Homo sapiens: one gene and its partner. The protein of the gene in region 2 purifies or fractionates together with the protein of the main gene of each other region. This does not show direct contact. Each region holds a gene or a part of one and is shown on either strand. Other genes may lie near its edges.

Region 1 (3,929 bases), on a different chromosome or scaffold from region 2:
CTCATAATGATACACATATAAATCTACAATGTCTACTGTGGACACAGTGCTCCTTCACTCAACTGTGCAAAGCACAAGACACACGAGCAGTCATGGGGGTCCTGACAGAGTCAAGAGACCGCCCGTTTTTTTTTTTTGGTTTTTTTTTTTTTGAGATGGAGTCTTACTCTGTCGCCCAGGCTGGAGTGCAGTGGCGTGATCTCAGCTCACTGCAACCTCCGCCTCCCAGGTTCACACCATTCTCCTGCCTCAGCCTCCCGAGTAGCTGGGACTACAGGCACCCACCACCACACCTGGCTAATTTTTTGTATTTTTAGTAGAGACGGGGTTTCACCGTGTTAGCCAGGATGGTCTTGATCTCCCGACCTCGTGATCCACCTGCCTCGGCCTCCCAAAGTGCTGGGATTACAGGCGTGAGCCACTGCACCTGGCCAAGAGACCCCTTTTGTTTGCTCCTCAAGGTTTCAGGTTTCAAGAACTAAGAGAGGGCAATGTGACATGGCTCACCCTGTAAATCCAACACTTTGGGTGGCTGAGGCAGGAGGATCACTTGAACCGAGGAGTTTGAAACCAGCCTCAGCAACATAGTGAGACCCTGTCTCAACTAAAAAAATTTAAAAATTTTTTAAAATACCCCAGTGTAGTAGCATGCATCTGTAGTCTCAGCTACTGAGGAGGCTGTGGCAGAAGGATTACTTGAATCTGGGAGGTGGAGGCTACAGTGAGCCATGATTGTACTACTACACTCCAGACTGGGCAACAGAATAAGAGACTGTCTCAAAACAAACAAAAAACCAGAAAACATTAAAAAACAAACAAACAAACAGCACTGAGGTTCTTTACCAAAACTCGAGAAGCATCAGGAAGCTTCAGGAGTCTGACTGTCAGCATTTCCCTTTGTGAGTATTTCCCTGGGCTGTTCTATAGTTTGGGTTTAATTTGCTTCCCCTAGAAGGCTGGACTCTAAACACAGCCCTCCAGAGGAGCACAGCTTAGCCTCAGTGGACTTGTTCTTGGCTGTAACTGCCTCGTCTAGATGGCAGGAATCCTCAGGTGGCTGTGGCTGCTATGTGCTGTGAGGCCTTGGCTTGTACAGGGAGCGGGGACACACAGAAAGGACTCTGCTTCTGTTTACCTTTGTAGTCCTGACCCAGTTCCAGGCTGAGGTTATGAGCCTCAGCACATCTAACCCAAGAGCAGCCTCCTGCCCCTGACTCTGTGTGACAATACAGAAGTCACTTAAGTACTGAGCCTCAGTGTATCCATCTGTAAAATGGGAAGAGTGATACTTACCTTTAAGGGTTTCTAAGCAGGTCATGTGAAAGAATTATGGGAAAAGTGCTAAGCACAAGCCTGGTACACAGACGGAAATCTAGGAGAGAACCCACAACCCCTGGTTTCCAAATCCAGTGAGTGTCCAAACCACAAACAAAGAGTTAAATTCAAAAGTGGCAGCAAAAGAGGAAGTGAGCAGAACCAGCCACAGTGACACACGTGCTACAGAGTTCAACAACATCGTCACAGGGCAGTACCTGGAGGACTTGCTCTCCTATAGATCCATGGAAGGCAACTACAGCAGCGCTGGGAAGACAACCAGCAGGGCACAGAGGTGACTGCGAGGCTGGAATGAAGCAACCTGAATTACAGGCAAATCAATACTATTAATGATTATGTATGGTGAAAGTCCATCACAACAGAGTTCAGTGGCCTCTGTCAGTAGTGACATTAATGGGACAGAAATAAAACCCCCAGTCTATAAGACCCAAGAGTAAACAAAACAGGGATATAACGTCCACTCATTGAGGGTCTAGTACAATAATACATAAAAAGTGTTTTATAACGTAAAAGGACTACATAAATATAAGAGATTCTTATAGTGCTGATAATAAATTCCAACTGGAAGCACTAATGGATCTAGGTATGTGTGACTTTAAGAGACATAATGAGGGGAAAATCAAGCACCTTCAAAGCTCAAATGAAGGATTCAAGGAATTTAACTGTCAAGTGAAAGTAATATCAAGTTCCTACATGTTAGTAATGCTGGTAGAAATGCTAGGAATTGGCCGGGCACGGTGGCTCACACCTGTAATCCCAACACTTTGGGAGGCCGAGGCAGGTGAATCACAATGTCAGGAGATTGAGACCATCCTGGCTAACACGGTGAAACCCCATCTCTACTAAAAATACAAAAATTATCCAGGTGTGGTAGCATGCACCTGTAGTCCCAGCTACTCAGGAGGCTGAGGCAGGAGAATCAATCACCTCAACCCGGGAGGCAGAGGTTGCAGTGAGCCGAGATCGTGCCATTGCACTCCAGCCTGGGTGACAGAGTGAGACTCCATCTCAAAAAAAAAAAAAGAAAGAAATGCTAGGAATTGCCTGGTCCAACTCCTTGGCTTTACTGTTGAGGAAATAAGCCTGGCTCAGCAGTTTTTCAGTTGTAACATACTGCAAGTGTTTGGAAAGAGGAAAAAGGAGTGGTACTGGGCGTGTCTGTGGGCTTTCAAGCCCTTTATCATGCCTCTTTGCCAAATGGCCTAGAAGTTTAAAAGCTGAGGTTTTTCTTTGTTGAAGGATAGCCTGTGTTATCTTTGGGTTGGGAACTTATTTTGCAATTTACTTGCAAAATAAGAACAATAAAAGGACTATGAAGAGCTCAGCTACAGCTCTTCTTCCATGCAAAACAGGACACCTCATCACCCAGGCTCCATGCTGGGGTTTGATGGTCTCTAAACCTCCTGAAACTGTCTAAAAATTATTGCATATGTACTAGATACCTAAAATTGTCTGGGGATTACAGAAGAATAACCTTCTGTAAGATTAATCAGCAAATAAGTAGAAGAGGGATAACAGAATTAGAAAATCATTTTGCGACTGCCATTATAATAGCACAAGGATCATCAATAGATGCTAAAACTATTAGGTGAAAAGTTTTGGGGGATGAGATAGTACCCATGGTGCCAAAGCACCAATGAATGGATTACTTCCTGACATACCTTCATAAGGAAGAGATCCAGTGGTTATCTTAACTAAGTGACCAAATCCAGCGTCATCAGCAGACGGGGCAAAGTGGCATGTGCTTTCTGGCATGGCACTATATGAATCACACAACATTACCTATGAAGTGTTTGTGCCAAAAATGTTTGACTTGAATGAATCTAGTCAAGACTTTAGATCTAACTTCCAGTTTATAAAAAATATAAAGGAAAGGAATACTCTGAAGTATGTTATAACTGAAAAAGTACCGATGGAGGAATTAAACCACACCATAAGGAAAGAACCAGATAAATCCAGAATGCTGGACATTGCACATGGCAACTGGCCTAGTCTTTTAAAAAGTCAATGTCATAAAAAAAAACCTTCGAAAGAACTGCTTTTGATTTTTACAGACTAAAGAGAAATAATAACCAAATGCAATACGTGAACCTTGATTGGATCCTGTAAAAAGAAAAAAAAGGTTATAAAAATAGTCTTGGAACTATTGTGGGAAATTTGTAAGTAGGCTGGGTGTTAGATCATATTAAAAAATTATTTCCTCTCTTTCTTTTTTTTTTTTTTTTTTTTGAGACAGGGTCTTACTCTGTCCCCCAGAGTGCAGTGGAACTATCTGGGCTCACTGCAACCTCGGCCTCCCTGGCTCAAGCAATCTTCTCATCTCAGGCTCCCGAGTTGCTGCAACAACAGGTGCATACTACCACACTTGGCTAATTTTTAAAGGTTTTTGTAGAGAAGAGTTGCCACTATATTGCCCAGGCTGGTCTCAAACTCCTAGGCTCAAGCCATCCTCCCACCTCAGCCTCCCAAAGTGCTGGGATTATAGGCATGAGCAACTGCACCATGTCTAAAATTATTTTCTTAATGGTATTTACTGAGGTTATGTATGAGAATGCCTATACTTCTTATTTATTTATTAATATATTTATTTATTT
Region 2 (2,981 bases):
TAAACAAGGATGGTGTGGACATGATAGTGAGAAGAAACATCTGTGGATTTACCAACATGGTTCCAAAGTAGAAGACCTACAGTCATTGGGTGACCAGCTAGAACACTGTGAGATACAATACATTTCAAAAGATAGGCAAGGAGTGGGAGTGTCACTGCCGCTTCATAGGAAAACCTGAGAGGTTTTATAGTCAACCAGAATTTGAGTGAGCTCCAGTATTTTACCAGAAGTGAACCAAGAGAAAGTAAGAGCACAGATTAAATAAACTGTAGGGCAGGGCTATAACTGGCCTTGGTTTTTCACTACACTGTGATAGGCACTTGGACGTACAAAGAGACTTGATATTTTGGGGGGCCAGAGAAGATATACCCCTTCCATTTTTGTTTGCTTTTTAGTGTAGGTGACTCTAGAATAAACTTTTGATGATAACAAATACTCAGAAAATATTTTCTAGTTCTTGGTGCACCCATTTTTCCTGCTTCCCAGTGTAACCCTTCCTCCTGGAAGCAGGTTCACTAAGCACACATAACTAGGAAAAGGCAATCCAGTGTGAATCAATACAACAATTGAGGACAGGAATATCAGCCTGTTTAAACAGATGAACTGAAATAAGAACTGTGTTCCTATCTGCTTGAAAATAACAAAACTAGAGGAAGATTTGCAAACATCTGGCTAGTTCCCGTATTTTGATTTGCACTGACTCTACTATATGTTTCAATGACTGCAGTTGGCAGTTTGAAAAGAAATACTCAGTGACAATTGACAAAGTCAAAATGTTTTTATTTACGCTGAAGTTTAGCAAGTACATTTTTAACAAAGAAGGTGTACTTTAACGTTATGTATAGTAGAACAGGGAAACCATACATATAACTTTCTAGTCTCTAACACACTACTGCATTTTTTAAAAATTTAAAAGACAAAAAGCCAAGTTGAAATGAGCATAGAAAAGCATCAAATATGGTCAAGTTACTTTAGCCATTAGGTTTTAGTTCATATTTTTAAACTGGTCAGTCTAATGCAAGAACAAAGTTTACATCATTGCTTTTAAAATGTACACGCGTTTCTTTTTTAATGTAACATAGATTAAATAGCTCCTTCAGTAAACAAAGCTTTGCTGATAAACAAAACTGAAATAACTCCATGTTGAATAGTTTCAGAGATAAACTGGAATCACAAGCATCTTCATTTATGTAAAGCCAGCGAGGACCTTTCAGGCTGAATACAACTGTTGTGCCATTTCTAAACAGTAATAGTTACCTCCTTAAAAAAAAAGAAAACAAGTTAGTTCTTATGAAGAGTCATTCTGATACGTGCTTAAAAATACTAAAACTTCTATCTTCAGGAACCTAAAATGATCTGATGTAACAGGCTCAATTTAGTGTTGGTAAAATTTAACATTTCTTAACATTTCTATATTTTCATCTGTCAGTTTTCAAAGATCCTTCAAATTTCATGCTATAGCTTCTGTTCTTCTTTCCACAGCACCGGAGACATTGAAGACTGATAAAGGCTCTTCATGAACTATATTATAATGTCTGTAATAATCTATATTACTTTTTTTTTTGTATATAATGGTGCATCTGAAATACCATCCCTGTGGTTTACCAAAACAGGGGGAAAAGAGTATCTGGTTATGATCTAAGATAATGACAGCTTTGTACATTTAAAATTTCCTCTCCCGGGTTAACCCTGAGACTGTGTATACTGCATGAAGGGAGACTAGTTTGGAATATCGTTTCAGCTACAGTGTTTAGTCAAACCGGTATCCCTCTAAATGATAGTCATTAAAAGAGCCCATGCCATCCTAGAGTTAGATAATATTTAATTTGGGTGGGTAAAAGTTATTGTTGGAAATTTTTAAAAAAAAATTTATTCTACCTCTTTTTGTCAAACCTTGTTATTTTCCATAGCAATGGCTTATAACCTGAGTCTCTATTTAGATACATCACAAAGATTGGCTTTTGGTTACAAAAGAAGTAGGAAAAGAAATGTGGATGAATCCGTACAAATCCATTACCTGTGCTTGAGAAATACTTAAAGATAATGTTTCTGAGTCAAGTGCTTTATTTTCACATATAATGGAGAGGACATTATCATTGTTGGACTAATATGTCTAATCTAAAATATTAAGTCAATCTGGTCAAGCTTATTAGGAGGAAAGTATACCCTTTTTTAACCTTGTGTATAATATCTTTAAAATCTTTATTCTTTCTGTGTATAAGGTATCATGGTGAGTGGCAGAATTTTCTAGATAATACCTCAGAACCAAAAATAAAGATGTAGTAAGGTAATAGATGAATAAAAGATTTGGGGTTTGGGTTAGTCAGACTTATGGAGGGTTGGACTTCATCAGAGGGCAACCAGACATTTTCCCAAGAAGCCCATGGAATTCACTTAAACTTTTCCAGGGACCAGAAGAAAACAAAGCTTGAATTTTTGGACACTGGTAATTGTTCCAACTCCTTTGTGGAGTCTGAGAATATTTACTCTGATGAATTGACCAAATATTTGCTCAGTCCTCCAGTCTACCTCATCCTTTGTATACACAGCCTAAATGTCAAAGGAAAGCTCTTTGACATGAAATGACAGTCATTTTACCAGGATTGAAATTTATACAATATAGCTAAAGCTTAAATCATGCAACACAAACTGTGAACATTACAAACTGGAAAGCAATAGCACACACTATGTCCCCTTAAAAAGGGTACATGAACTCAGCAATGAATAGCGAAAGACAATCACCATTTGTCCTTTAGAAAAATGCAGTTTCTGAAAAATTTCTACTTTTGTTATGTTTATTTCTTGCCTTTATTTAGAGACAGAAATATTTGCCCACATCCTTTATGTGTCTGCTTACAAGGCCTATTAGGAATAGTTCCCATAGCTGCTCAAAAATTGAAAGAAAAACTAGGCTAGCAAGAAGAAAACAATATTAAGTGAATCAACTTTTCTACCAGAATACAATAAATTGAGATTTCACC

The links.
Region 1: the proteins of DACH2 (region 2) and TRIM26 purify together in Homo sapiens (affinity purification with mass spectrometry; 2 studies listed by BioGRID and IntAct, with this or other methods). This does not show direct contact.

What each region holds. Positions count from the first base shown.
Region 1 is NC_000006.12:30,199,503-30,203,431, forward strand, and holds part of TRIM26 (tripartite motif-containing protein 26), read right to left. Parts: intron 1,637-3,929; 5' UTR 1,533-1,636; intron 1-1,532.
Region 2 is NC_000023.11:86,830,385-86,833,365, reverse strand, and holds the end of DACH2 (dachshund homolog 2), read right to left. Parts: intron 1,261-2,981; coding exon 1,211-1,260; 3' UTR 764-1,210; downstream 1-763. UniProt on the Homo sapiens protein: Transcription factor that is involved in regulation of organogenesis. Seems to be a regulator for SIX1 and SIX6.